Linked DNA regions of Homo sapiens: all the other regions are linked to region 1. Evidence: fine-mapped expression QTL. A gene starts in region 1. Each other region holds a variant in brackets. All regions are shown on one strand. Distances are from middle to middle.

Region 1 (10,391 bases):
GAGTGCTTATTAAACTCTTTTTTGCTCTTTCATTAAAACAAACCACACCCTCTGTCGGTACTGGGTTGTGTTGTTCTGAGTACTTGAAAACAACACATGGCATTTTCTTAATAACTCAAAGACAAATACTTTTTATTAACACAAGTTCCTTTGCTCATATAGTCCAATTTACTGAGATTTTATCCTGTATGTGTTTTAAGTCCATAAGAGTGACTCAGAGCTGGAAGTTCCAATGCCCTGACTCTGGACAAGGATGATACAATTATACTCAGAAGTGGGCTGGTCAATGTTCAACAATCTACTCTCTGAAAAGGTGTATGTGTGAACATAAGTAAATACGTTTATTTTAACTTTTACTGATTTAAAAAATGTGTAGCACACAATTTATGAGTAATTACAAATTACACACTACTCTTTAGTGTAAATTCCATATAGTTAATTGATTCTCACAGAATGGTTTCATTGATTTTGGCCAAATGCTTTCATTCATAGCCAATCTGTGTCTGCAATTCAACCACAATTTGACAAAATAAGACTATAAATAAATGCTTGATTATTGCCCAGCTCAGCAAAGTTGCTCATGTCATTAACAAATGAGTGTAGGCCGGGCGCGGTGGCTCACGCCTGTAATCCCAGCACTTTGGGAGGCCGAGGCGGGTGGATCACGAGGTCAGGAGATCGAGACCATCCTGGCTAACAAGGTGAAACCCCGTCTCTACTAAAAATACAAAAAATTAGCCGGGCGCGGTGGCGGCGCCTGTAGTCCCAGCTACTCGGGAGGCTGAGGCAGGAGAATGGCGTGAACCCGGGAAGCGGAGCTTGCAGTGAGCCGAGATTGCGCCACTGCAGTCCGCAGTCCGGCCTGGGCAACAGAGCGAGACTCCGTCTCAAAAAAAAAAAAAAAAAAAAAACAAATGAGTGTAGTTCCAACCTGAATTTAGTTGACTTTTTTGTTTATGTTAATAAGACAAAACTGAAACAGTGAAGATGCATGCTATAACTTTATTCATCTGTCAATGACATGAGTGACCTTTTTACTCAATCATGTACTAGTTTGTAAATATTAGAAGGGTATTTCCTCAAAAATTTCATTATTTACAATGCGATGGCTGTAGACCTGACACACCTTTAAGTCTAATCCGCATGAATGATACTTTCTCTATAACTGCATTAAGTTTATTAAGTTAGACAATCAACAAAACAATAAATCAGGCCTTGATTTTTATCATTTGCCAATTTTCCTGCTGTAAATACTCTACCATGGACAATCTCAAACTACCAGAACATGGAGTTGGGAAGAGATGTTCACTAGCACACCATGATATAATATTTCTACCATAGAGAAGAGATACAACCAACTTGCAAAATTCCTGAAAATTGAAGAATCAGGTCTCTGGAGCCAGCACAAGTGACTCCCGTATATGACTGATCATATTTAATTTACCTATTACTCTCTTTCCAGTTCAGCAATGAGTGTGTCATCTATTCAAACTGCTTTGTTAAAATAAAAAAATGAACAGGCCTCAAGTTATCTGTAAAGTTAGCAATGAATAAATCTGCTTGTTATCTAAATCTACCATCTTAACAAAATGACCACTTTCTCAAAAATTTAGCTCCCAATGGCATCTAAAACATGCCTCATTCTCAAAAGTCTAGGACAATAATTAGAGTCTCAGTACTAATGTTTAGCAATGCTTTGTGGCATTTTTCTCTCTTGTGTCTAAACTAACATAAAACACAGAAAATGGCAGCACGAACACCAGGACACCAGGACGGGGAGGCGCCTTAGAAATTAGCTAGTCCAAGCTACACTCTTTAGGGAGGCTAGCTTTATTTCTTTTTCTTTTTTTTTTTTTTTGAGACAGAGTCTCGCTCTGTCGCCCAGGTTGGAGTGCAGTGGCCGGATCTCAGCTCACTGCAAGCTCCGCCTCCTGGGTTTAGGCCATTCTCCTGCCTCAGCCTCCTGAGTAGCTGGGACTACAGGTGCCCACCACCAAGCCCGGCTAATTTTTTGGATTTTTAGTAGAGACGGGGTTTCACCGTGTTAGCCAGGATGGTCTCGATCTCCTGACCTCGTGATCCGCCCGCCTCGGCCTCCCAAAGTGCTGGGATTACAGGAGTGAGCCACTGCGCCCGGCCTAGGGAGGCTAGCTTACTTATCACAGAGAAGCAATTTATTACCAAAACCCAAGTTTTCATTTGTAAAATAGTTTCTGGGTGCTAAAGTGAGATAACTGTGGTAAATGTACTCAATCTTCTCTCACTTTGGGGATAAATGGGTCCCTTCAGCAACACGATTTTGGGCAGAGTATTATTAAGTTACGAAAAGAAACTTTCAGTTATACTTCCATGTTCACATCACCAGGGTTTTTAGGTTGTTGTTACTATTTCTTACCATAGTTCTTTCAAAGCACATATTTGCCCATTCCAAGAGTAATCATTTACAAGTTAATAGCAAGTGAACTGGACAAGTCTTGTGTAAACCAGCCAACCCTCAAGCAAATTTCAGAGTCAAGAACATATTTTACACCTTGATCTGAGAGTGATAAATCCCAGGTTCTTGTGAACTACTAGAGGCAGAAGATTCCTTTGGAAAATGGGCTGTTGGCCAATCTCACTGGGCCGCTAAAAATTTCATTTTTGGGAGGAGAGTCTCTTCTCTGGAAACGATGTCTTTAACATCACGTTTTCGTTCTCTCCTTTTCCTCTTCCTTTCCTTCTCCTTCTTCCTTCCTCCTTTTTCTTCGCCTTTTTTTTTAAAAAAAAATAATACAGGCCTACAATCTCTTACTGAAACCCCAAGGGCCAGATATGTGTGGATTCAGAAATTTTCGGATTTTAGAAAGGTAACACATTGCATATAATAACATATTCCTAATTACCCCCAGTAGGGTCTGGGGCAATACTTCATAATCAACCATGTTTATATTTTGCAGCAAAACATACATATTCACATGAGGTAGGATAAACAAGACCACACATAGCCTCACATCAGTTCATTTCAGATGAATTTTACTATTAAGAACTATTTGTAAAGCTACATTTTCAGGGATTTTTAGTAATTCTGGTTAAGGAAGTATAGGCCTGTAAGGACATTACCAGCATACTCTTCTTCTCTTGATGCATTTAAAAAAATGAGTATGTGTAGAGTGTTTCCTTGATCCATGTTGAACTTTAATTTTATTGTTATTTATTGGAAGCTACTCATTCTTATATTAATCTCAGAAAGGCATTAGCTATGTTTTGCTCTGGTCTTGCTTTAATTCTAGGCTTATGCAGTAGGCAAGTTAGATTTCTAAGGGATGATGGAGGAATAAATGGCTCTAGCATTCTACCAATTTGGTATCCTCTTTAGGCCACCAATGAACTTGGTAACTAATTGTTGTTTTCCACCAGCCTTGCAATGCAACACAGCTTTGCAATTTTATTTTTTTGAGGCTACTAAAGCTTCCTGTATCTGCAAAATTAAACTAAAAGAAACAAGAACCGGAGTTGTATATAAAGAGAGAACAGAGAATACCAAGCTTAACTTTGTCCTTGTAGAAGTATTGATTAGTCTGGTTAATGCTGTACTAGACATCAAGGAAAAACCCGACTTTCTTTCTTAGATCCCTCATAGCCTCATAGAGACCAGCCCTCTACAAATCAAGACTTGAAAAGTTATTCAGCATATTCCCTCATGTCAAAAACTGTAGCTGGGAAACTAGGTAGGCGGGAACAGAATCTGCCTGGTGTTGGAGAGGATGTATTAATATAAATAATAAACACAAAACATGAATTGTAGAAGGTTGCAAATAGAGGAAAACTTCAGACACCAAAAGGATCAAAAAACATAAAAAGAAACAGATACAATTTTTAAATTGTAACTTGTTGTCTAGTGCAATGATAAAAGCTATCCACGAATACAGCGATTTTAGAAAGTTAAATTTTACATGCAGTGCTACTAAAATACCAAAGGCCATACATAATGTCTGACCCAAGCTGCCACCTCATATAGCAACTTCTTACATGGGGGCTTTAAAAAGATTGTTTGACTGGTCTACTGTCCTGCAGTGTCAGGAGACGGCTTTGTCTGACATATTGAATTTCCAGTGTCTCTCACACTTCCTCCTTTTCAGATGCACAAAAGGTTTTTGTAAAGTTTCTCTTGGTTTTACCGCTGGCAGCTACAGAAACCATGCCACAAGTCTGGTGTAGAGTTATAGGGTGTGATTTTATTTGACTGGTATCTTCAGAGCTTCTGGATTTTTCAGTATAACCGAGAATTTCCTTAAGAGCTGTAAATAAAAATCGGTACCAGTTCGAACCCTTTACTGGCCCGGTTTTGTGTGAGGTTGGCTGGCTGCTGTAGCACGTTCTCCCCCTCCTCCTCCTCCTGCACCCCCTCGGTTCCCTCCTCTGCCTGCGGGAATACCACTTCAGGGCGTTCAGCAGCCTTCCCAGGGTGGGTCCTGGCCTAGTACCCTAAAACTATAACCGAGAATACCTATCATTGGGCAGCCTAGGAAACGCGACTGGGACTTTTAGTAGGGGCCCCTCACCGCTCTGAAGCACTCACACTTGAGTCAGGGAACATGGGTTTGAATCCCCACCCGGCCGTTTATCTTGTGCTCTTGGGCACACTGTGTCCCCTATATAAAATAAGCACCCATCTCTTCATCTGTCTCCTAGGCCTGCGACGATGCAATGACTGCACGCAAAGCGCACATTCACGGTCAGGTCACTTCTGGCGTCCGGCTGTGGTCCCCGCAGGGTGCCCGCCGGCGGAGCGCATCCTCCGGCAGGGGGCGAGCTCCGCACCCCGCTTTCCTCATGGGCCGGCGCGGCCCGCCGTTCAAGTGGGGAGCCCAGAGGTGCTCCGCGCCGTGGGCGGGGGGCGGTTGGCGCGCACAAGGCCGGACTCCGGCGGGGCGCACCTCCACACGCACCCTCGCGGGCAGCGGGTCGGAGTCGGGGCCTCGGGCCGGCTGGGGGCGGGGCATGGGCGCGGCGCGCGGGGCCCGGAACGCCGAGACAATGCGGCGCGCGGCGGCCAGGAACGGCTCGGCGGGCCGGGGCGCGCGCCGCCTTCCTTCCTGCGGGATCCGCTTCCCGGCGGCGCGGCAGCGGCGAGCGCGCCGATTGGCGGCCCGGTCCTCCCGCCGCCCCGCCCCACGCCCGGCCGGCCGCCGCCCCCGGCCCGGACCCGCCCCTCTCCGCGGGAGGCGTCGGGGCCCGCGGCTGGGTGGCGGGTAGTTCCCGCCGGCTGTGCGCGCCCGCCTCGGGGCTCGCTCTGAGAGGACGCGGCGGCAGCGGACTCGGAGCCCTCGGCGCGCAGGCGGGCGGACCGGCCGAGCTGCGCGGGGCTGCGCGCCGCCCCTGCTCCGCCGCCAGGCCCCGCGCGGCTCCCGCGCCCGGCGCTCCCCTTTGTCCGCGGGCCGGAGCGGCGGCGGCAGCGGCGGTGTCCGAGCGGCGGTCGGAGCCTGCTGCGGCAGTTGAGGCGGCGGCGCCCCTGCGGCTGTGCGCCAGCGCCCTCGCGCCGAGGCGATGCCGGACCAGATCTCCGTGTCGGAATTCGTGGCCGAGACCCATGAGGACTACAAGGCGCCCACGGCCTCCAGCTTCACCACCCGCACGGCGCAGTGCCGGAACACTGTGGCGGCCATCGAGGAGGTGAGGCGGCCTGCGCGGCGGCTCCGGCCGCAGGTATCCCGCGCCCCAGCCCCGCCCGCCGCTCCCGCATCCGCATCCCGAGAAAACTTTCTTTGCTCCGAAGCCGGACGCGGCCGGGCCAACCCTGCCCGAGACAGAAGCCCTTTGTTCCCGCCTAGGTGGCTCGGAGGAGATGGGTGATGGCCACCTTGGGCCTCTTTAAGACCTCCCCTCTCTCGGCCTCGTGGCCCTCGCGGGGTTCCGCGGCCTGGTCTTTTCCCCGCAGCGCGGCCAACTTTGTCCAGAGTCGGGGTCCGCGGCGAGCGGGGGATCCCGCTGCCCGCCGCCGCCCGCCGCCGCCCGGGGTCTTTGGTACCCGGTGCGGACCTTATCAACTTGTTCTTGAAGTGGACCGGCGGGGGCAGCTCCGCGCTCCGAGCTCCCCGCCGCAGCCCCCGAGCGCCGCAGGGCCCCCACCCTCGGGTCCGCGGGTCCGGGGCATCCCGGGCTGCCCGGGAAGGCGTGCCCGCCTCAGCCAGGGCGGCCTGGCTGCGCTCCACCCGTGCCCGGAGAAGGAACTGCGGGCAAGGTGTGTGAGAGTCGGCGCTTCTGGGTCCAAGAAGCCTCCAGGAGCCGCTCCCCGGTTACCTGGGTCTCACCTGCTTGAACCCGGAATGCCGCCCTTCCCCCTCAACCTGGAAAAGGCCTGGTTTTAGTAAAGTGCTCTCAAGGTGCAAAGTCATCACGCCTAGCTGCTAAGCAGTACGCTCTCCAGGTCCTGGGGAGAGGAACACGTAGGAACGAAGAAGCTTGGTTGAAAATTAAAGCCGTGGGGAAAGGGGCAGAGTCTGTGAGTCCAGGGGCCACCGTTGGCTGTGGTTTGAGGCACATCCTCACCTGCAGTCCTCCTTTTCCTTACCCATCAAACGGGATTAGTAATGCATCCTTTCCAGGATCAGAGACTGTGTGAAGTGCTTAGCACTCTGCTCGGCTCAGAATAGGTTTACAAGTCACACGTGTGGCAATAGTGAATCTGTGATTAAATGTCTCTGGGCCAGGATGTCAGGTTACAGTTTTAAAATTGGGTATTGCAGGTGTTTTAGCAGAAGACGCCTGGGCTAGCAGGAGTGTGTGTGTGGGTGGGGGGGTGGGTGTCACCAAAGAGCTTTAAATGAAGCAATGGCGTTATTTTTTTTTTCTGGTTTTTTTTTTTTTTTCCCATTTGAACAAAGCATCTGCTATTAGGAATTGCTTGAAAAAAAATCCAGAATGTTTTCCCTTAATGGAAAAATTTTTTCTTTGTAGCTGTAAACAGTCAATAAAAGGGAGTCAAAAGTAACATTCAGCATTCTGAATCCTGTTAATATAACTTGGGTAGCCTTCCTTCTCTCCATTTAATTTGGCGGAAGAGAGCTGCATGTAAACCTTTCCTATGAATTCGGTGATTCCCCAGATCACTTAATTCTACTTTTAGCAGCAAGGCTTACAGATGATGCCTTCAAATGAGGCAGATGGGGATGGGTGAATGAAATTTTTTCCTAAGTGCCAGTTAAAAAGCACGGTGTTTTGAGAATACACCATTAATAATGTTTATGGAATGATTGCAACCAAAAAGGTAGCTGAATATTTCTTAAGGGAAGGAAGCATTGTGCATGATGTCTTTCTTTAGAAAGCTTGATTATGTTTAAAGTTCTGTTGCTTTTCCCCACTGCAGTTTGTCAGTTAAATATTATTAACACTGGCAGATGTTGGAAAGCCAAGCAAACAAGAATTGCTATTAAAATTGGCATACCTTTCTCTGATTAATTTTAGTTTACAGTGTATAATTCCAAAGCTCTTTTTGTATGCTGTGCAGGAGATTACCCTAGAGCTCAGTTACTGAGCAGATTACAAAGAGACTGGATTTGGTCATTTCATTAAATTGCAAGCTTGCTTCATGCTGCCGTCTAAGCCCAAGAATTGGTTCAAGTCTCAAAATGGAAAAATTAAAATCATTTCAGGTTTATTTCACTTTAAGCAAATCTACATACATGCTATGATGATGGTATGTGTGAGCTTGGTTTTATAACTAAATTTGAAAGTTGTTCACTTTCTGAGGTAAATCAATGTGGATTTCTTTAAATAATGCTCTTTCCCAGGTGTCTAATGTTCGTGTCTATTACCAAAACTTGTTCTATGTATGGTTTAATAACAATTGATGTGTACAGTATTTTGGTTTTAAACAAAAATCTTCTCATACTGAGACGAAACATGAGAGGGTATCATGACATAAAGTTACTCATTTAACAAATAAATAAAATTTGCAAGCTCTTGGTCTTATGTTTAAACAAATGAATCACGGAACTAGCAAACTAATTTTATATTTATTTATTTATTTGTTACGGAGTTTTGCTCTTGTTGCCCAGGCTGGAGTGCAATGGCACAATCTTGGCTCACTGCATCCTCTGCCTCCCAGGTTCAAGCGATTCTCCTGCCTCAGCCTCCCAAGTAGCTGGGATTACAGGCATGCGCCACCATGCACAGCTAATTTTTTGTATTTAGTAGAGATGGGGTTTCACCATGTTGGTCAGGCTGGTCTCGAACTCCTGACCTCAGGTGATCCACCTGCCTCAGCCTCCCACAGTGCTGGGATTACAGGCGTGAGCCACCACACCCGGCCAGCAAACTAATTTTAAACTGATTAACCTTTTTGAATCTGTTATTTCCAATGTAGGTTCTATCTGCCAAAGAATCATTTTACAATTAAAATGTGCTGTTTTGATTTGCATACTTGTTGCTGGAATATTATTATAGTAACTGTTGGGCCCTTATCCTGTACTATGAAACTCACAGGTATTGAATTCAGTCCTTATCTCTGCTTTATAGGCGAGGAAATTGAGGCTCAGAGAGGTTAAGTAATTTGCCAAAGGTTATAGAGCTCTGAAGTGGACTTTGAACTTGGCTCCTGCTGTTTTCAGAAACCATGCTGCTTCCTGTTACTTTTCTTAATGCCGAATTCTCTAAATTACTCCTTTGTCAGATTGACCTGGGTTCAAGTTCAGGCTCTACAGCTTGCCAGCTGAGTGAACTTGAGTGAGATGCCTAACATTTTCTTATTTTCCTCAGCTTTAAAGTCTGGTTAATAATACCTATCAACTTCAGAGGATTGTGGTGAGGGTTTAGGAAGATAGTACATAGCACAGAAGCTGCCAGACAATTAGTTACCAGATTATATAGTTAGTGAGTCCACAGGCCCCAGTGAGGGCTTTTGGAGTGAGGATGGGATTTACATGGGGGGAAGTGTCAGGGAAATGGATGAATGGCTGAATGGGTGAGTGAATGAAACACTACCGTGTATCTGTTAACCCATGTGTTTTTTTTTTTGAGATGGAGTCTCGCTCTGTCGCCCAGGCTGGAGTGCAGTGGCTCGATCCCCACTCACTGCAAGCCCCGCCTCCCAGGTTCATGCCATTCTCCTGCCTCAGCCTCCCGAGTAGCTGGGACTACAGGTGCCCGCCACCATGCCCGGCTAATTTTCTGTATTTTTAGTAGAGATGGGGTTTCACCGTGTTAGCCAGGATGGTCGATGGTCTAGATCTCCTGACCTTGTGATCCGCCCGCCTTGGCCTCCCAAAGTGCTGGGATTACAGGTGACCCATGTGTATTTTTTAAAAGTTTGTTGTCAGGCCAGGTGCGGTGGCTCACGCCTGTAATCCCAGCAGTTTGGGAGGCCAAGGCGGGCAGATCACTTGGGGTCAGGAGTTCGAAACCAGCCTGACCAACATGGAGAAACCCTGTCTCTACTAAAAATACAAAATTAGCTGGGTGTGGTGGCGCATGCCTGTAATCCCAGCTACTTGGGAGGCTGAGGCAGGAGAATCACTTGAACCCAAGAGGTAGAGGTTGCGGTGAGTCGAGATCGTGCCATTGCACTCCAGCCTGGGCAACAAGAGTGAAACTGCGTCTCAAAAAAAAAAAAAAAAGTTTGTTGTCCTGGCAGCTGGTGAGAGCATACCTGTATTTTATAATTTTTCACTTGACCACCTTCTCTGGTTCAAGTCATCATTTTGTACAATTTTAGCAAACTTAGCAAAGTCTGGTGCTGCAACCAGAGTCTGCCCTGTGCTTTTGGAAATAATGGAAAAAATAAGCAGTTGTGGCAGAAATTTGAAAAGTAAGGGTTTTTTGTTCCTTTTTTTTCTTCTTTTTTTTTCGTTTCTTCGAGCCTCTGGGCACTTTGAAATATTCTCAAAATAGGGAAAAATTGTATACATATTTGGAATATTCATGTTTTTAGTTAGACCCTCCTTTATAGCACCATCCATTCTGCCTTACGTATTTGGCATTGATGTAGTTTTAAAAATAAATTTGATGTTGACTTGTAAGTATTAAAATTTAATCTACTTCCTTCCGGGGCCATAATTCTCTACTTTGTTGTCCTTGGTTACCTTGGCAATCCCATTGCTGTCATAAGCACAGGGTTCTAACTGCAGGGGTGGGGTGAGCATCTGGGCCTGCAGGCTCCCAGGGGCCCTGCCGTCCATGGGACCAGACCCCTCCTAGCAGCAACAGTGGGAACCAGGGCTACGTGCTTTTTGGCAAGAATGTGATTCTGAATGTTAGCCCTTTGTGACTTGTTTGAAAAACAGTTCCTCCAAGTCCCCAGAACAGATTATTGCTGTCTTCAGAAGGACATCACCTTCTTGCCCAGAGCATTCATGTTTTTGGAAGTGAGCCTTGATGGGTCAAACAGGGCCACCTTTTAAACTGTGTTCTGAAAT
Region 2 (10,391 bases), 190 kb after region 1:
TCCACAGAATGAATTCAGACAAAGTGTCCTCAACACACAAGGCTTCTGGGTTCTATTTGCTGCTCACCCCCCAGGTGGTCTCTGTTTCTGTTTTCTATTTTCCCAAGGTTGTTTTGAACACATAGACCCTCTGTGGTGTGAGGCGTGGATTTCCCACAAACAAGGACATTGTCCTACCTCACACAATACCACCTGCAAAATCAGGAAATTAACACGGATGTAGAAACACCACCCAATCCTTAGACCCAGGTCAAGCTTAGCTGTTTGTCCAAATAATGCCCCTTGTTGCAGATGGGTCTAGTTTGTGGCTTTTTTTTTTTTTTTTTTTTTTTGAGACTGAGTCTAGCTCTGTCACCCAGGCTGGAGTGCAGTGGCGTGATCTCGGCTCACTGCAAGCTCTGCCTCCAGGGTTCTTGCCATTCTCCTGCCTGAGCCTCCCGAGTAGCTGGGACTACAGGTGCCTCCCACCACGCCTGGCTAATTTTTTGTATTTCTAGTAGAGACGAGGTTTCGCCGTGTTAGCCAGGATGGTCTCGATCTCCTGACCTCGTGATCCACCTGCCTCGGCCTCCCAAAGTGCTGGGATTACAGGCGTGAGCCACTGCACCAGGCCCCAGTTCGTGGCTCTTAATCTGGATCTTTATGGTGGGAAATGGTTCCTTTTAGTGGAAATGATATTTAGAGGCCAAGTTCTGGGGGCTAGGTGGAGAGTCACTGCTCCCACACAGGCCCTCTGAGCTGTTAGAACTTGGAAATATACGCACATGTACATGGATACATACATACACCACTTATCTCTCTATTCCGTATATTTCTGTATTGAAATCCATGAGTTCACATTGACATCTCTGATTTCAGTTGTTCTAGTAACAAACCACACCAGACTGACAGACATGAGGCACAGCCAGTTTATTCTGCTGACAGATTGTCAGGAATTTGGATGGTACTGTGGGGTCTTCGTCTTTTCTCCACAGTGTCTGGAGCCTTCGCTGAAAGGACTCGAAGCCTGGGGGTGGTTGGACACAGGAGGTGACTCGTTGGCTGGGGGTTACGGTCAGAGTCTCTTCACGCCCCCCGTGGTAGCTGACGCTGCCTGTCAGCCAGAGCCTCAGCTGGGCTGTGACCAGAACACCTACATGTCCCTGGCATGGGCTTCCTCATATCACGGTGGCTGGGTCCACGGACAGGTCCCCAGAGAGAGGCCTGGCCCTGGAAGCTGGCACGGAATGACTTCCGCCATACGTCACTGCTCAGTTACAAGCTCAGACACAGTCGGGGCAGAGAGGACTGTGGAGTGGCACAAGGAAGTCATCAGTTCCACCTCTCAATAAAGAATTTGGGGCCAGGCGCCATGGCTCACGCCTGTAATCCCAGTACTTTGGGAGACCAAGGTGGGCGGATCACCTGAGGTCCAGAGTTTGAGACCAGCCTGGCCAACATGGCAAAACCCCACCTCTACTAAAAATACAAAAAAATTAGCTGGGCATGGTGGCATGCACCTGTAATCCCAGCTACTCAGGAGGCTGAGGCAGGAGAATCCCTTGAACCCAGGAGGCGGAGGTTGCAGGGAGCTGAGATCACGTCATTGTACTCCAGCCTGGGCAACAAGAATGAAACTCCATCTCAAAAATAAAAAAATAAAGAATTTGGAGACTAGGCACCATGGCCCACATCTGTAATCCCTGCACTACTGTGTTTTTGTTTTTTTGTTTTGTTTTGTTTTGTTTTTCTTGTGTTTTTTTTCTTTTTTTTTTTTTTTTTTTTTTTTTTTTTTTGAGATGGAGTCTTGCTCTGTCGCCCAGGCTGGAGTGCGGTGGCGCGATCTTGGCTCACTGCAAGTTCCGCTTCCCAGGTTCACACCATTCTCCTGCCTCAGCCTCCCAAGTAGCTGGGACTACAGGTGCCCACCACCACGCCTGGCCAATTTTTTATATTTTTAGTAGAGATGGGGTTTCACCGGGTTAGCCAGGATGGTCTCAATCTCCTGACCTCGTGATCTGCCCTCCTCGGCCTCCCAAAGTGCTGGGATTACAGGCTTGAGCCACTGTGCCCAGCCCATCCCTGAAGTTTTTTAGGAGTAGAGAAATAAAGTTAAACTTTTACTTAGTCCCTCTGTTTTTCAAGATATTCCCAATAGCCGCACCTGGTATCCCCCATCCAGACACCGTCCGTTTTGCCCTCTCCAAGAATAGAAGCTTCCTGTCCTTAGTAGGTTGGGCAGGGCAGCGGCTAAGGCTACTCAGAGCTGGGGCGAGATTCCAGGGGTTCAGGAGCTCCTCAGACAGATTTTTGGCTAATTCTTCTGCATACTACCTTGCCTTTCTCCCCTTCCAGAGGGTCCTGAGCCTTCTGAGGACACTTCAGGACTACAGATAGGAGCATTTCAGGGCCTTCCTCACTGCTGGAGTGGGATTCCATTCCTGAGATCAACTAGGTTGACTGTGATTTATCTTTCACTCTGTTGCCCAGGCTGGAGTACAGTGGTGTGATCACGGTTCACCGCAGCCTCGACCTCCTGGGCCCAGGTGATCCTCCCACCTCAGCCTCCGCATAGCTGGGACCACAGGCACGCACCACCATGCCCGGTTAATTTATTTTTATATTTTGTAGAGGTGGGGGTCTCCTTATGTTGCCCAGGCTGGTCTCGAACTCCTGGGCTCAAGCAGTCCTCCCACCTTGGCCTTTCAGAGTACTGGGATTACAGGCATGAGGCACTGCGCCTCACCTCTTTTAGGTTTAATTTTTAAAAATCCTTTTCCTTGGAAAGAAATGGAAGTAAATGTACTTAAATCTGCCATTTTAACCAGAAGACTCCCAAAACTTTTTAAATGCTACTTTGCAAGATAACTTTCTAAAATATAACATGCAGGGCTGGGCACAGTGGCTCACACCTACAATCCCAGCACTTTGGGAGGCCAAGGTGGGTGGATCACTTGAAGCCAAGAGTTCAAGACCTGCATGGCCAACATGGCAAAACCCTATCTCTACTAAAATTACAAAAATTAGCCGGGCATGATGGCACACACCTGTAATCCCAGCTACTCGGGAGGCAGAGGCAGGAGAATCACTTGAACCCAGGAGGTGGAGGTTGCAGTGAGCCAAGATCACACCACTGCACTCCAGCCTGGGCAACAGAGCCAGACTCCGTCTCAAAAAAATAAAAATAAAATATGCATATCTGTGCCCTCCTAGTCTTAAACAGCTACTGAATTATGCTGTAATAAATGGGCTTTCCAGTGCTAATTATTTCTGCCTCTATACCAAAGTGGCCACAGGCCATGCTTCTCTTGGCTTCTGGGCTCTCTTCTGCCTTCCCTTATGACTCCCTGGGATTTACGCTTTCCATGCTGCTGTTTTTCGAGAGAAACAAATCACGTGTTGAAGTCCTGGCTAAGGAGCCGTCAGCTCCCAGCAGTTATTGGGACTCTGAGAACCGTGGTTGTCAGCTGTGAGGTGCAGGTTCCTTGTTCTCAGAAGCGTTCTAGCTGGCGGGAGCTGGACAGGTTTCCTCTGGAACACAATTTTACCTGGTTTCACATCTGACTGGCAGGAAAAAGGGAAGCAGGGCAAGTGAGGTTAGGGCTACCCGGGACAGACGGGGATGGACGGAGCCATGTCGTCAGCGCCCAGTGGAGTTCTGACTGTAAAGGAACACACCGGTACGCCCTCCTTGTGAAGGATGCTATCCCTTCCCCACCACCGGTGATTTTGTCTCTGGGATAAATGTGAATTTTCACACCTGTTCTCTTAGGGTAGGAGTCAGCAAACTATGGCTCACAGGCCACATCCAGCCTGCTGCCTGTTTTTTAGGGCCATGAGCTAAGAACTAAGAATGGCTTTTATATTTGTAATTGGTTGGGAAAAAAAAATCAAAAGGATATATATATATATATATATATATTTTTTTTTTTTTTTTTTTTTTTTTTGAGACGGAGTCTCGCTCTGTCGCCCAGGCTGGAGTGCAGTGGCTCGATCTCTGCTCATTGCAAGCTCCGCCTCCCGGGTTCACGCCATTCTCCTGCCTCAGCCTCCTGAGTAGCTGGGACTACAGGCGCCCGCCACCACGCCCGGCTAATTTTTTGTATTTTTAGTAGAGATGAGGTTTCAGCATGTTAGCCAAGATGGTCTCGATCTCCTGACCTCATGATCCGCCCGCCTCGGCCTCCCAAAGTGCTGGGATTACAGGCGTGAGCCACTGCGCCCGGCCTCAAAAGGATATTTTGTGGCACATGAAAATTGTGTGAGATTCACTTCAGCACTCAGAAAATATTATTGGAACATTAGCCACACCTGTTTTTTTATGTAGTCTGGGGCTGCTTTCACACCACAGTGGCAGAGTTGAATACTTGAAACAGAGATGCTAGAATCCACAAAACCAGCTGGGTGCAGTGGCTCACACCTATAATCCCAGAGCTTTGGGAGGCCGAGGCAGGAGGATTGCTTGAGACTAGGAGTTCGAGACCAGGCTGGAAAACATAGTGAGACCATGTCTTTACAAAAAATTTTGAAAGTTAGCCAAGCATGGTGGCGTGCACCTGTAGTCCCAACTACTCAGGAGGCTGAAGCGGGAGGATCACTTGACCCCAGGAGTTCCGAGGCTGCGGTGAACTGATTGCCGCACTGCACTCGAGCTTGGGTAATAGGGCAGGACCCTGACTCAAAAAACAAACACAAAGGCCAGGCACAGTGGCTCACACCCGTAATCCTAGCACTTTGGGAGGCCGAGGTGGGCAGATCACCTGAGGTCAGGAGTTTGAGACCAGCCTGGCCCACATGGTGAAACCCCGTCTCTACTGAAAATACAAAAAATTTGCTGTGCGTGGTGGTGCACACCTGTAATTCCAGCTACTCGGGAGGCTGAGGCAGGAGAATTGCTTGAACCCGGGTGGCAGAGGTTGCAGTGAGCCGAGATTGTGCCACTGCACTCTAACCCGGGTGACAGTGCAAGACTCCATCTCAAAAAAAAAAAAAAAAAATTCACAAAGCCTAAAAAGTTTACTATCTGCCTCTTTAAAGAAAAAGTCTGCTCACTGCTGTCTCAGAGGATCAGGCCTTCCCTGCGAGTGTTCTGTAGTTAGGGATGACTGCCGGCCAGGGGGTCAGCCAGGTCAGTGTAGTGATGTCTGCAGAGACATTTACACCCAGAGACACAGATGGAAAACAAATGGCTAGACTGGTCAAATGGGAGGGGTCTTTGTTTTATGGAATAAAACAAAGTTCCTTTTCAGTTCCTTCAGCGTATGAGCAAAACCCATGTGATGTTTTCTCTCCCTTCATTCTGGGACTGCAAGCATTGAGGCCAGACAGGGTTCATTCCGAGCAGCGAAGGGAGTGTCGACAGACGGGAGCGTACAGTGGAAAGAATCCCATCCTTGCCTTCCCCTTCCCTTCCTCCCTGGTCTTCCTCTTCTGCTTCTCCAGCCCCCGTCCTGTGCCTGGCTTTATGCTAGGTCCAGGAGATCCACCGGGGAGCTGAAGCCACTGGCACTGGTCCTTAGCTCTGGAGTTGACGGATCTTGTGTCACACCTTTTGCAGATGAAAATGCTGACTCTCCAGAACCCATTTATCCAGGGCTGCCAGGTGGCAGGTTCGAGATGAGGGACCCCTCTCTGCCAGCCCTGAGAACTACTTCCTCACTCATGTGTTTCTACCTTGTGGCTTTGGGGTGTGCTGGCCCAGAGG[T/C]TCATGGATGGGGCTTGAGCCCGTGGTCAGCCACATTGGTTCCCAGAAGCAGGGACGGCAGAGGCATGGACAGCGCTGACCCAGAGTGCTCGGACCCGTCCTGGCAAAGCCATCTGGGCCTGAGGTTAAGGTTCAGCCCTGCCCTTTCATGTGATGGGACCAAGGCAGGGAAGGGGCTGAGCAGACTCGGGGCGGGGCCAGTGGCCAGTGCCCAGCATCACTCCAGACCCTGGCCATCGGTGGCAGGCTCACGTGGACAGAGTGCTCTGGAAAAGCCCTGGTTTTAGGATCAGAAACGTTGAATTTAGCACTTTCCTCAGGGCCTCTCATTCTTCCTTTTCCCATAAAAAAGAGACAGCTAAGTGACAGTGGAGGAAACCACCTCACACACTCTGAGCTTGAACTCAGAAGGTTCTCTGATAAAAGGGGATGAGAAAGGGGCAGGTGCCCTCCGGTAGCAGTAAATCTACTTTTTCCCTGTCTTTGTAGGGCTGACAAGTCCACCCCACTGACCAACAAAGGCCAACCGAGAGGACCTGGTAATTATTTAATTTGGGACTGAGTTTGTTTCTGCTTGGTCCATGGGGGCAATGTGGGGGATGTTTCCTGCCAGGTGGTCAGGACTGAGGGAGGGCCCAGCTGTCTGCCATTCCACAGCCCTCCTGCCCCCTCCCCTCCTGCCCCCTCCCCTCCTGCCCCCTCCCCTCCTGCCCCCTTCCCCTCCTGCCCTCTTCCTCTCCTTCCTTCCCTCCTTCCTTCCTTCCTCCCCCACTCCTGCCTTCCTCTGCTCCCTTCTCCTCCTCTCCCCCTCCCTCCCCCATCTCATGCCTTCCTCCCCCGCCACCTGCCTTCCTCCACCCCTCCCTTCCCCTCCCCTCCTCTCACCCTCCTCCCTGCCTTCCTCCTCCCTCCTCCCTCCTGCCATCCTCCCTCCTCCCTCGGCCTCTGAGACCCCTGCTCCTGAGCAGCTCAGTCCTGGGGCCCCTCACCTGTCCCCTCCTGCTGACATGGCAGGCTCACTGGGGGACACTCGCTGCCACACAAGCTCTCCAAGGTCTGCATCCAAGTCAGAAGGTTCCCTTTCCCCTCAACAGATCGGAACACCTGGGGAAACCTGCTTTCAGACACACCCTGTGGCTTGTACATTGTTTACATCTCATGGCTGTGATTGATGGGATGTCTTAAGCTGCTTCATTTTTGCCCTACAGTGGATCTCTCTGCAACGGAAGCTCTGGGTCCTCTGTCCAATGCTATGGTCCTGCAGCCCCCTGCACCCATGCCTAGGAAGTCGCAGGCAGTAAGTGACGAGCCCCCTTTCCTGCCTCTCTGCTCTAGCCAGGGGGGTGCAGGTGGTTTCACAAGGGCTCAGGGGAAGCAAGTCTTCCCCTCTTCCCCTGGCTGGGGCAGGGCGGGGCTCTTCTTGGTACCTGACTGCTTGGATCTGGGCAGCTGGTGGGTTTGGCCCTCCTGCCGCAGCTCCACAATGGGCCCACTCAGAGTACCCTGCCCCGGCCGCTTCGTTTCCCAGCCCTTGGCCCCTTCTCTCTGCTTGGTGGGGAGCTCTTCCCTTTTCTCTCCCTGGCTCCTGAGCTGCACTGACCTGCCCCACCTTGGCATCTGCAGGCTTCTCAGGCCTAGGTACGGGACTCCTGAGACCGGGGAAGGCAGGGTGCTTGAGCTCTCTGCCCTGAGAGCTGAGGCCTGCAGCCACACTAACCGTTGTTCCCTCTCCTGACCCAGACCAAGTTGAAGCCTAAGCGGGTGAAAGCGCTCTATAACTGTGTGGCTGACAACCCCGATGAGCTCACCTTCTCCGAGGGGGATGTGATCATCGTGGACGGGGAGGAGGACCAGGAGTGGTGGGTGAGTCAAGGGTGGGCCTGGGAGGTTCCTGGGGGCTGAGCCACGTCCCTGCCCACCTGGCTGGAGAGACGGGCTTGCAGGTGAGGTTTTCTCAGCCTGAGCAGTCCAGATGTAGTTCCTGGTGCCTCCGCCCCTTAGCATCCTCAGGAGCTGCTTCCTCCATGGACACCCCCTTCTGAGCAGGCCTGATTATTCCCCAGGGTGGCTTCCTCCCCTGTTAGGGTGCAGTTTCCACAGCACTCATGAGGGCCTGAAATGACACTCCTTCATTTTGAGGTCTTGAGTTTCTAGGTCATCACCCCCCATTGCTGGATTAGTGGAATCGGGTGTCTGGAGAGAGCTGACCTAGAGCGCAGAGCCCCAGGCCTGAGTCTGGTCCTGAAACAAGCTGTGGCCGCCCAGGCGTCCAGCAGGGTGTGGGAGCAAGATGAGTGCCGGCCACCTAAGAATTCAGACTTGGCCACTCAGGGGCTGGTGGCTTGGGGCAGGTTGCTTTTATCTTTAAGCATTAGTGGGATCATCTGTGACAGGGAGGTCACACACACACAGTCTGGTGCAGGTGATCTTGTGAGCACCCACTAAGCGGCAGCTGCAGACAGTGAGGGCGGTGGATGAACCGGCTTGAATGGGGCGTGGACAGAAAGCCCCAGGCTGAGCCCACCACACAGTAGACGCAAGTGGCACAGCTCCGCAACTGAGCTCAGAGCAGACAGTTCAGCTGGGAACTCACAGGATTTAGGGGAACTTCTTTGTCGAGTGCGAGGAGTTTGGACACTGTCTTTAGTCACTGTCCCTCCCAGAACTCCCACTAGTGTTTAAACTGCATGTCTTCAGCCTCCAGAGGCGCTGTGAGCTCTCAGGGCCAGGCAGCACTGCCTTCATTTGGCAGAGCTGGGTTCACCGGTCTTTCCTGTGGCCTCGTTTGCCCTTAATGGATTGAAAGTGTCTGTGGCCTGGGCGCGGTGGCTCACGCCCATAATCCCAGCACTTTGGGAGGCCGAGGCAGGCGGAACACTTGAGGTCAGGAGTTCGAGACCAGCCTGGCCAACATGGTTCTCTACTAAAAATACAAAAAATTAGCTAGGTGTGGTGGCAGGCACCTGTAATCCCAGCTACTCGGGAACCAGCCAGCTCCCACAGTTGCCCACAACCCACCATCCGGAAGGGGCGCCAACCTGACCACAGGCTTAGCCATGTGGAAAATACCTGCTCATTTCCAAAACTGGAAAATAGAGGCATAAAGAAGAAAACAGAAGTTGCCCATAACCACAGCACCCCCCACCCACTCCACAAAAAGCCCACCATTCATATTTTGGCTGTTTTTAGCCTTTTATTTGCCTACATCATTTACACTCTTGAGATCATATTTGGATATAATTTATGTATCTACCCAAGAGGGAACATAAGTGGATAGAGTGAAGCCTTCCACAAGTACTTAACTCATTGAAATGGGGCCAACTTATACCTTTGCCACTTTAGGTGACGTTGCAGCTCACAAACTTGTGACACTCAGTTCATTCATTCATTCATTCATTGAAAAATGGCAAGTGGGAAGTAGTGGTCAGACAGCTGACCTGTGTGCCTCCCAAGAACAGGTGGGGGTGGCCATCCCCACGAGCGAACATCTGGGACATGGCTGGGAAGAGCTCCTTACACGGGAGAGGCCTGCACTATTTGAAATGTGGTGAGGAAAAACGGACAAAAATCATTTGGATGTTTTACCTAAGTAATTCCTTGTCGGAAGAGTCTTCTGAACCAATCTTGCTTTTCTTCACCAAACGCTCTATGTAATGCTCTTCAAAGTTTCCACCAACATTTGGAATTTTAATAACAACCTACACTTTTCTCCATTTCAGATTGGCCACATTGATGGAGATCCTGGTCGCAAAGGCGCATTCCCGGTGTCATTTGTGCACTTTATCGCTGACTGAATTGCTACTGAACAAAAGCATTAACAGTTATGTTCCTGTTTCGTTATTGGTACCAAAACTCTTGCCAGATAACCAGTTTCATGAACTGTTTGTATGGCAGCCCATGTTCTCTAATGCCACTGCTCTGTTTTAAAAACTCAGAGGCAATTTTTACATATCAGTAATTGTTTTTATAATTTGTGGTTTTCATGAAACATTGCTATGCATTTATTAGGAAAAACTGAATTTCCCAACAGGTGAACTGAAAAGTTATTTTAACTATTATACATAATCAAGATCCTGCCTCTACGGAATTAGCTAAACCTAAAAATGTTTGCATTAATGAATAAATTCTTCCTGCATTCCTTGGCCCAGTTCTGGAGTTGGTGACCTTTATCACAATTATTATTTTAGGCGGCCAGTGAACTGCTGCTTCAGAAGTCCATAGCCCAGCTCTGAACTTTCTCGATAAAATGCCATCAGTTCACCTTTAAAGACACACATTCCTTTGAAATCCACCCAGTGTTTAAAAAGCAACTTGGAAATTTACACATTAGCATTGTACTTTCTAGCCCTAATTTGTGAGGTTGCAGCTATCATTATATTCTGCATGTATGTATAACCTGTTGTGAACAATCATACTTAACAAAACTACTGATGGTTTATGACAACGTAGGGTAACTACAGTTCATTCTGTTCCAGGTTATATAAAACTGCATTTCCTGAATTTGGTTAAAAACTAAGGATGATGGATTGCAAAACAGTTCTTTTAAATTAGTTTATATGCTTTAGGTGTTTTGGAATTTGCCTTCTTGAACTTCCTGAGTCACACAGAAAGCAACTGTACACAGTAGAATTCTGTGGCGCAGACCATGCTGTATTAACACATCACTTGCTGTTTCCTACTGAGTGTACCACTGCCTTCCCTTCTAGCC
Region 3 (10,391 bases), 43 kb before region 1:
TTTGTTTAAGTGAAAGCAAGTTTATTAAGAAAGTAAAGGAATAGCCTGGGCGCAGTGGCTCACGTCTGTAATCCCAGCACTGTAGGAGGCCGAGGCGGGCAGATAGATCACCTGATGTCAGGGGTTCAAGACCAGCCTGGCCAACATAGTGAAACCCCGTCTCTACTAAAAATACAAAAATTAGCCGGGCATAGTGGCAGGCACCTGTAGTCCTAGCTACTTGGGAGGCTGAGGCAGGAGAATCGCTTGAATGCAGGAGGCGGAGGTTGCAGTGAGCCACTGCACTCCAGCCTGGGTGACAGAGTGAGACTCTGTCTCCAAAAAAAAAAAAAAAAAGGAAGAAAGTAAAAGAATAAAAGAATGGCTATTCCATAGGCAGAGCAGCAAAGATGGAATTTTTTTTTTCCAGCAGAATTCTCTAGAGGCCCATCCAAGTTGCTGCGTGTGCCAGCAGGTTTGTTCCTTTTCACTGCTGACTAGCATTCTATAGCATGCATGTGTCACAGCTTGTTTAAGCATTCACCCGTTGAAGAACATCTCAGCTAATTCCTGTCTGGGACTATTACAAATAAAGTTGCTCTGAATGTTTGTGCACAGGATTATGTGTGAATATAAGTTTTCGTTTCTCTGGGATAAATGCCCAGGAGTGCAATTGCTGGGTCATATGGTAAATGCATGAATAGTTAAAAAAAAAAAAAAAACCTGCCAAACTGTCTTCTAAGGTGGCTGTACCATTTTATATTCCTGCAGCAATGTCTGAGACATCCAGTTTCCGTGCATTCTCACCAGCATTGGATGGTGCCATTTTTACCTTAATCATTCTGATAGATGTGCAGTAATATCTCATTACAGTAGTTAATAGCTTTCAGAAAACAGAATTAGAATAAACTGTTGTACACCTAGATTGGTATTACTTCACTGGCTCAATCACATTCCATTAGGTAAATATATAATAATTGATTTAACTATTTTTCTGTTGTTACTCATTAATGTAAAATATTTTGCTACTATAAAAATCTATTGGCTGGGCACAGTGGCTCACGCCTGCAATCCCAGCACTGTGGAAGGCTGAGCAGGGAGGTCACCTGGGGTCAGGAGTTCCAGACCAGCCTGGCCAACATGATGAAATCCCGTTTCTACTGAAAAGACAAAAACTAGCCGGCAGGTGCCTGTAATCCCAGCTACTCGGGAGGCTGAGGTAGGAGACTTGCTTGAACTCGGGAGGTGGAGGTTGCAGTGAGCTGAGATCATGCCATTGCACTCCAGCCTGGGCAACAGAGTGAGACTCCGTCTCAAAAAAAAAAAAAAAAAAAAAAAAAGTCTATGAAGGCCGGGCATGGTGGCTCCCGCCTGTAATCCCAGTACTTTGGGAGGCCTAGGCAGGTGGATCACTTCAGGTCAGGAGTTCGAGACCAGCCTGGCCAACATGGTGAAACCCTCTCTCTAACAAAAAATACAAAAATTAGCTGGGCGTGGTGGTTCACACCTGTAATCCCAGCTATTCAGGAGGCTGAGGCAGGAGAATTGCTTGAACTTGGGAGGTAGATGCTACAATGAGCTAAGATCCCACCACTGCACTTCAGCCTGGGCGACAGAGTCAGACTCTGTCTCAAAAATATATATATCTATTAATATTAGTATACACATATACATTAGTATACATAAGCTTTTGTATATTCTATATTACACTTTATAATATCAGTGCATATGTACACATATTAGATAGATTTTTTGCTCACTTACGCATGTATTTTTATTACTCATTCATAAAAGTACAATTGCTATGCAAAAGACATACACATTTGAAATTTTGATAGATATTGCAAAATTGCCTTCCAAAAACTTTGTACCAATATACACTCCCACAAGACTGCATAAGAATGATCATTTCCCTATAAACTCTCCAATAGTTAATATAATTCACTAAAAAAATTTTTTTCCAATATTATAGGTTTAAAAATAGTCTCTCATTATTATTGTAATTTGCATTTTTACTGGTGGAGAGGAGCAGTTTTTAACAATACTATTGGTCATTTTAATGTTGCGTATGTCTTTTTCATATTCTATTATGCTTATTATGTTATTTTTTCATTTTTTACTAGATTCTTTTCTTAATGATTTATTCTTTTAAAAACTTTCCCCACACAAAATTTTTTAAAATATTTCATCTTATGATTTTATAGTTACTTTTCACATTTAAACCCCTCATTTATTTAAAATCTATTTTTTGTTTATGATGCAAGGCAGAGACTGTGACAGAGGCTGTCACTGTGCCAACATGCTGAGACCTGGAAGAGCTGAGTTTATGTCCCCCAGGGAAAGCCTTACAAACAACCTGTGCAGGGGATAAGTAACTTACACCCTGATCTCTGCTTGTAACAAACTTGGATGGGATTTATGCTGCCCCTAGGCTGCCCTGAGGACTGAGCCACAGCTGCCCTCCACAGGACTTCGCTGATTCTACATCCTTGCCTGGCCTTGTCCCTTCCCAGCCTCACTTCCCTACTCCCCTGCTGACTTTCACTGGGAGCACTTCTTAAAAATTCACCTGCTCGGCCGGGCATGGTTGCTCACGCCTGTAATCCTAGCACTTTGGGAGTCCGAGGCGGGTGGATCACGAGGTCAGGAGTTCCAGACCAGCCTGGCCAACGTGGTGAAACCCCGTCTCTACTAAAAATACAAAAAATTAGCTGGGCGTAGTGGCGGGCACCTGTAGTCCCAGCTACTTGGGAGGCTGAGGCAGGAGAATCTCGAACCCAGGAAGTGGATGTTGCAGTGAGCCAAGATCATGCCACTGCACTCCAGCCTGGGCAGCAGAGCGAGACTTCGTCTCAAAAAAAACAAAAACAAACAAACAAACAAAAAAATATATGTATACTCACCTGCTCACAAATCCTCAGCTCAGGATCCATGTGTGAGAAACCCAACATAAGACCAAAATCAGATTTTATCTTTTCTACATGGATAGCTCATTTCCCCTGCTAATTTCCCTGACATCCTTATAAAACAGTCCAAACTTCTCCACTGATTGGGGATGGCATGTTTATTCTGTGCTGGCAGTAGTAGCTTCTGGTAGAGCATCTTTGCCCCAGGCACTGCAGAGAAGGGGTGGCAACCACCCTAGGGTCCTGCAGAGTCACTGTCCAGGCTGCTGAGGACAGTTGGCCGCAGCCCCCATCGGAGTCCTCCTACGAGGGACTTCAAATGTCAAGAATGTCCCACCGCAGTCCATATGATGTGTTTTAATGCAGATAGGACCAGAGCCTGAAGGACTTGTTTCTTTCAAAAACAACATACATTAACATGTTGAGGCAATAGTCGTAACCTCACTGTCCTAATACAAAAACTATATTCCCCTTCGTATGTCTTCCATTCTTTGCCAACCATGTGGTTCCCATCACATCATACTTACATTTTTGCAGTCTGTTTCTAAAATTGTATACTTGGCTGGGTGCGGTGGCTCACACCTATAATCCCAGCACTTTAGGAGGCCGAGGTGGATGGATCACCTGAGGTCAGGAGTTTGAGACCAGCCAGACCAACATGGTGAAATATAAAAATACTGAAATATAAAAATTAGCTGAGTGTGGTGGTGAGCGCCTGTAATCTCAGCTATTTGGGAGGCTGAGGCAGGAGAATCGCTTGAACCCAGGAGGCACATGCTGCAATGAGCTGAGATCGTGCCACTGCACTCCAGCCTGGGCAACAAGAGTGAAACTCTGTCTCAAAAAAAAAAAAAAAAATGTATACCATAAAATACTTCGAGGTTTATATATACTCTTTAAAATGATCATTTTTAACAGGCTGCATATTCATAAACTAGAATTTTTTTAGACATTATCTTGTGGTTGGATATTTTAGTCACATATAAGATTTTGCTTTATTAAGAGAACATGGCAGTGAACAAACTTCAATATTTTCCTACACCAGAATGCTGTGGTTTGAATGTTTGTCCCCTCCGAAACTCACGTTGAACTTGGACCTCACCAGATGTGGCCCCTCAACCTCTGACTTCCCAGCCTCCATAACTATAAGAAATACATTCGGCCGGGGGCCGTGGCTCACACCTGTAATCTCAGTACTTTGGGAGGCCGAGGCGGGTGGATCACAAAGTTAGGAGATCAAGACCATCCTGGCTAACACGGTGAAACCCCGTCTCTACTAAAATTACAAAAAATTAGCCGGGCATGGTAGTGGGCGCCTGTAGTCCCAGCTACTTGGGAGGCTGAGGTAGGAGAATGGCATGAACCCAGGAGGCAGAGCTTGCAGTGAGCCGAGATCACGCCACTGCACTCCAGCCTGGGTGACAGAGCGAGATTCCATCTCAAAAAAAAAAAAAAGAAAAGAAAAGAAATACGTTCCTTTTCTTTACAAATTACCCAGTCTCAGGTCTTCAGTTATATTAGGTTGGTGCAAAAGTAATTGCAGTTTTTGTCATACTTTTTTTTCTTTTTTTCTTTTTTGAGAGGGAGTCTCGTTCTGTCTTGCCCAAGCTGGAGTGCAATGGCATGATCTCAGCTCACTACAACGTCCACCTCCGGGGTTCGAGCGATTCACCTGCCTCAGCCTTCTGAGTAGCTGGGACTACAGGCATCCACCACCACGCCCAGCTCATTTTTGTATTTTTCATAGAGACAGGGTTTCACCATGTTGGCCAGAGGGTCTCAAACTCCTGGCCTCAAGTGATCCACCCGCCTCGGCCTCTGAAAGTGCTGGGATTAAAGGCATTAGCCACCGCGCCCAGCCTGTTTTTGCCATACTTTTTTTTTTAATGGCATAAAAAGCACCAACCTAATAGCAACAGAAAATGCACTAAGACACCAATGACGTGTTGTGTTTGTGATGACCCAAGAAAGTCTCCTGGAAGTTTATAGCTCCAGAGCTATAAAATATACAAAAATAGGCATTTTTTTAAGCCCTATACTCAGGTATGCAAAATGGTTCTTTCTTTAGTTTTTTGGAGCTAGACTTAGTTTCT[A/G]TCTTTAGCTCCCATTCCTCTTAGTCACAGAAAATAAAATCTTGCCAATTCAAAAGTTTCTCAGTTGACTCATGATAAAATTAGACAATGTATGTGTTTCTGCTCCCCACTTTCTCCCTAGAGTTGCAGCTCTTCTCCCTGGGGCATTTTTGGCATTAGGGCATGGGGGTTGCATCTGGTTCCCCCTGGGCTGGCATCCGTAAAGACGTCTGCATGCCCATGTGTGTATTTCTGTAGGATGCTCCCATACAGAGCTAACGGTGTATCTCCTGAACATGGTGCTTGGTGCTTCAGATACCCATCCAGGTAACCCTCAAAACAACCTTATCGGGGTGGGGACAGTATTAGTCCCATTTCACAGATGAGGAGAATGAGGCACAGAGAGGTTATGTAATTTGCCCGAGTCACAGACCTATAAGTGGTGGGTTCTGGATTCAAGCTCTTGCATTCTGGCTCCAGAATCTGCCACCTCCTGTGGCCCCACCCATCAGGCCACCAGTCCTGAGGTCCCTACCACATTCCTCGTTCCAGGCCATAGGAGCCTCAGGTATGGCTTATTTTGGCATCCAGACTGAGCCTGGCTCAGTCACAAGAGGAAAAGCCTTTGGCTGCTCCCAGTGCCCCGGGGCAGGGGCAGCACTGGAAGGCGACCAGGCAGCTCCAAGCAGAACCCTCTGCCCTCAATCATTAGCTTATCTGAAGTTTCCTGCAACCCCTACCCAGCCCTGGGGCCCAGCCTGAGGAGGGCAGAGTCAGGCCCACCCCATGCCCCCTCCTGTTCCCCCTTCTTGGGTCTCCCCTCTCCACCAGCTCAGGACCCCTCTCCAGTGTGCCAGGAGGGTGGGGGAAGCACTTCTGCCTAATCACATGTGATTCTAAACCCTCCCGCCCTGTCTTACACCTTGCTCATAGCTTCTCAGACTTTACAGCAGTGACTCCTAGCCCTGACGCATGTCAGTATCACTTGGGGAGATTAGAACAAAACAAAACAAAACATACTGGCATCCAGGCCCCAGCTCCAGAGATTCTGATTCAATTGGTTTGTGCTAGGCCAAGGATGGGTATTCTTTATTTTTTATTTTTTATATTTATTTATTTATTTATTTATTTATTTAGAGACAGAGTCTCGCTCTGTTGCCCAGGCTGGAGTGCAGCGGTGCATCTCCGCTCACTGCAAGCTCCGCCTCCCGGGTTCACACCGTGCTCCTGCCTCAGCCTCCCGAGTAGCTGGGACTACAGGCGCCCGCCACCACGCCTGGCTAATTTTTTGTGTTTTTTTTAGTAGAGACAGGGTTTCACCGTGTTAGCCAGGATGGTCTTGATCTCCTGACCTTGTGATCCGTCCGCCTCGGCCTCCCAAAGTGCTGGGTTTACAGGCATGAGCCACCACGTCTGGCCAGGGATGGATATTTTTTTAAATCTCCCAGGAGAGGCTGGGCGCGGTGGCTCACGCCTGTAATCCCAGCACTTTGAGAGGCTGAGGAGGGTGGATCATGAGGTCAGGAGTTCAAGACCAGCCTGACCAAGATGGTGAAACCCTGAGTCTACTAAAAATACAAAAATTAGCCAGGTGTGGTGGCGGGCGCCTGTAATCCCAGCTACTCAGGAGACTGAGGTAGGAGAATTGCTTGAACCTGGGGGGTGGAGTTTGCAGTGAGCCGAGATCACGCCACTGCACTCCAGCCTGGGTGACAGAGTGAGACTCTGTCTCAAAAAAAAAAAAAAAAAAAAAAAGTCTCCCAGAAGATTCTAACATGGGTCCAGAGCCAAAAAAATTCACAGTTTTAAAACCAAGAATTTCATCCCCTGTTCTCGGGTTCTGCTATAACAACTTCCTCTTGGAGCCACGGAAGCCTTCTCTCCAGAAGGTGAACCAGGCAGTCGGGGGGAGGGATGTGAAGCAAGGTTCACGCAGCAGACAATTGTCTTTCTTTTTGTTCTTGCGGCTGAACCCCCTTCCTATATTTACAGAATTTCCCGCCTATGGGTCTTCATGTGAGAAAAGCCCTCTTCTGCTTCTAGAAGCTAAAAATGCCAGATACTCACTTCCCCAGCCTCGCTTGAGGCCAGTGCATTACATGTAGCCTTGATCTTGAATTGGAAATTCATAATGAAATGAGCAAAGAGCTCTCTGGCAGTGGCAACAGCTAACTATGGGATCAAATCTCTACCCTAATGGTGGCATCCTGGTGTAGCCAGCGGCCTGTGGCCAGAACCAGGGGTTGAGTGTCCTGGAGGACTGTTGCTGTTTTGCAGTTGGGATATGGCTCCGGCTGTGTACTGTCTGGGCCTGGCGCACCAGCCCTTCTGGAGATTCTGTGAGTCATCCCATTGCCTACAAAGAAGTCTTGTTCTGCTCCCATCAGCCAGATTTGGATTCTGTTTGCTTCAAAGCACCTGCTGGGTGCAAGAGTCAGAGGAAGGTTAAGAAAAAAAATGTGGCTGACACTTCACAGTGCCATCCAGCCACAGGGCATGACCGAGGAGCAGCACCTGGCTCTTTCTGCAGTCTCTGAGGTTTATTCAATAAACCGGAGCCACAGGCACCATAAGAATGGGCAGCAAGTCCGGGCACAGTGGCTCACGCCTGTAATCCCAGCACTTTGGGAGGCCGAGGCAGGCAGATCACGAGGTCAGGAGTTCGAGACCAGCCTGGACAATATAGTGAAACCCTGTCTCTACTAAAAATACAAGAATTAGCTGGGCATGGTGGTGGCGCACGCCTGTAGTCCCAGCTACCTAGGAGGCTGAGGCAGAAGACTCACTTGAGCCTGGGAGGCAGAGGTTGCAGCGAGCCAAGATGGCACCACTGCACTCCAGCCTGTAGGACAGAGTGAAATTCCATCTCAAAAAAAAAAAAAAAAAAAAAGAATGGGCAGCAGAATGCCTGCACTAGAATCTCCTGAGATGCTTGATAAATGTCAGATTCTTGGGCCTTACCCCAGAGACTGCTTTGTAGTCCGAGGGTTTGGAGCCTGTATTCCTGCATTGTTAATGAGCTCTTCAGGCAAGTTTGGGAATCACTGGACTAAATGGTGAATTTAACCCCCACTGCATGGGCCTAAAGGACTTGTTACAGGTGCAGAGCTCGCGTGTTTGGAAACAGACTGAAGATCACCAAGCACAAAACTTTCACTTTCAAATGAGAAAATGTGGGGAACAGAAGATTCTAGAAGACACAGAGCACTGACTCTGGGAGTGTGGGTCTTGTGGTTGTCCAGGCTCCACCAGGAATAGAAGATGGAGGAGCTGAGCTGGCAGGCAGACAGTGAGGCAACAGCAGGAAGCCACTGTCACCCTAGGTGAGAGGTGACATCAGCTGAGCCCAGGGCTGGGGTCATGTGGTAGATACTGGGGCCATGGCAGGCCTGCCCAGCTGCAGTTGGAGGCAGAGCCGAGGGAGAAGTAGCCGGGCTTCCACCTTCTTACTCCTTCTGTCTCCTCCCAGAGCTTCCCACTGGCCAAGAGCCTCCAGAAGCCAGGGAATGCTGAGCCTGGGTACCCCGCCTGCAGGCCTCAGGCCCACTCTGTGACCCGGAAGAGAGGGAAGAGCCGCAAAGGGATCTGAGGGACAGGAGGCCCAAGACCTGGGCATCCAGAGAGCTGATTCTTCTGAGGTTTCAGAGGGAGAATGAAGCTCAGCTGGGCGGAGAGCCTTGCTCAGATGAGGAAGCAACAGAAACAAACTAGAACCCAGCTCTCCTGAGTCCCCATCCTACACTGCTGGCATGAATCACAGCCCAGCAGACAGATCCCAGCTGCTTCTGGTTTGGGCTCGTGTAGCTATTTCTCCCCTGGCCCTCGGGTCAGCTGCACTTACGGCATTTTAAGATTCAAATGGGGCAGGGCAAGGTGGGGAAGTCGGGGATGATAGAACACAGAAGACAGGTAGCCCTCGCCCACTATCTAGTGAAGAGACTCCTCTCCATGCTAAAGACACTGCATAGCACAGAAAAACAAAAGACAAGTGCCTTTTGCCCTGAGAATTCCACAATGTGTGACACCCGAAGCTTCGGAAAACAGGGCTAGGACATGGGTTGTCACACACACCCTTCTCGGTTTGCATGTGGAGGAAGGTCAACGGCACAGCTATAAGGAAAACTGCATTCCTTGTGAAAGCAAGGGTTGGATGTCTGGAGCAACATCTTCAACCAGTGTTTTCATTTACAGATAAAGAACCTGAGACTTGGAGAGGTGATGTGATTTGCCCGAAGCCACACGATGAGTTAGTGGTCAATCCATTCATCTTAATGTCAGCTAGAGCATCCCTCTGCCTGGTGACTGACTTCCCAGGGGCCACGAATCAAGGACGTGGGACAGTTAGTCAGGAAAAGGACCCGAGCCTCTGCCGTGCTTCCTCCATGGCCTATTTAACCTTTGTGACCTTGTATAGCCTGCCTGGGCACAGCTGGCTGTTGATAACTAAGGAGCCAATCAACATCCAGAGCTGGGTGCCCAGGGCGAGGCAGCAGGTCCAGTTCTCACCGTGGCTCTGCTGCAAAGCCTAGGGCAGCAGCTGAGGGGCAGGCAGGGAGGAGCGCAAGAGGCAAAAAAGCAGGTGAGGAGGTGTTACCTGAAAGGGGTCCCCATCCAGACCCCAAGAGAGCGTTCTTGGATGTTGTGCAAGAAAGAATTCAAGGCAAATCCATAAAGTGAAAAGTCTCTGGCCAGACTTTGGGAAAGTCACTAAACACCAGTGCCCTGAGGACACAGTCACCTTTCAGTCTGCTTCCAGCTCTAGGGTTTAATGAAAGCTGTCAGCCACTTGCGGTTCTGCCTCCCTTTTATCAACAGTGTCTGTTTGCAGAGCAGGAGCCATTCATCCCAGCGCTGTGCTTTCAGCTCTGTCCACTGACCCTCTGTCAATATTCAGCGCAACAGCAGGTCAGTGCCTTCCAGCCTGTGTCACTCAGCACATCATTAGCCGCAAAGTCACTGGAAGGACCGCATTCTCTGGATTGTGCTGTCAACTTTGACTTCCAAAATACCAGCACATGCAACACTTTACATAGTTCCCCATGAGTTGACCAACATTTGAAAAATCTAAAGAGATCACTCTGATGACTCTTATGACACTGAAGGAAATATGCTTTTCATATTTAATCTAGGCTATTTATTTTCCCATGAGATAGCCAGAGAGGTGGAAATTCTGAGCATTCTCTTTACCTTAAGACATTTTTCTTGAGCTGATTTTTGTCTAGGAATGTCAAGATACTCGACACCCCAAGACCATGATCTAAGCATCTGGATAGAAATCAGGAGTTTGGCCAGCCCAGACCACCAGAAATTCCTGCTCAACAAACAAGTTATTTGCATCTAGGCCATAAGTTAGTTGTTGAAGTACTTTCTTTAATCTTCTCCTTAAGTGATGGTGAAACCCACTTGTGGTGGGCATTAAATGCTTAAAAGCAGA

Direction of the effects. Positions count from the first base shown, and alleles are read on the strand shown. Sizes are in standard deviations (SD) of each study's normalised expression.
For the expression in cerebral cortex of the gene that starts at base 5,234 in region 1, T is the high allele of the variant in region 2 and C is the other (small effect, 0.36 SD a copy in GTEx).
With allele A in place of G in region 3, the expression in gastroesophageal junction of the gene that starts at base 5,234 in region 1 is higher (small effect, 0.33 SD a copy in GTEx).

What was found. PIP is the estimated chance that this variant, and not a neighbour inherited with it, causes the effect.
Region 2: its variant is fine-mapped to the expression of ASAP2 in cerebral cortex (GTEx, PIP above 0.99).
Region 3: its variant is fine-mapped to the expression of ASAP2 in gastroesophageal junction (GTEx, PIP 0.96).

The regions. Positions count from the first base shown.
Region 1 is chr2:9,201,579-9,211,969 of GRCh38, forward strand. ASAP2 (ArfGAP with SH3 domain, ankyrin repeat and PH domain 2) reads left to right here and starts at 5,234. Exons shown (of 28, transcript NM_003887.3): 1 at 5,234-5,652. The coding sequence starts at 5,527. RefSeq lists enhancers at 4,383-5,315, 5,316-6,246 and silencers at 4,764-5,023, 4,770-4,953.
Region 2 is chr2:9,393,851-9,404,241 of GRCh38, forward strand. It overlaps ASAP2 (ArfGAP with SH3 domain, ankyrin repeat and PH domain 2), which reads left to right. Exons shown (of 28, transcript NM_003887.3): 25 at 6,173-6,222; 26 at 6,892-6,980; 27 at 7,424-7,546; 28 at 9,403-10,391. The coding sequence ends at 9,477. It overlaps ITGB1BP1 (integrin subunit beta 1 binding protein 1), which reads right to left. Exons shown (of 7, transcript NM_004763.5): 7 at 9,625-10,391. Among named protein-coding and RNA genes, the nearest start is that of ITGB1BP1, 24 kb to the right of the region's middle. RefSeq lists enhancers at 1-275, 6,694-7,257. The variant T/C (reference allele first, on the strand shown) is at 5,684.
Region 3 is chr2:9,158,489-9,168,879 of GRCh38, forward strand. No RefSeq gene overlaps it. Among named protein-coding and RNA genes, the nearest start is that of ASAP2, 43 kb to the right of the region's middle. The variant A/G (reference allele first, on the strand shown) is at 4,979.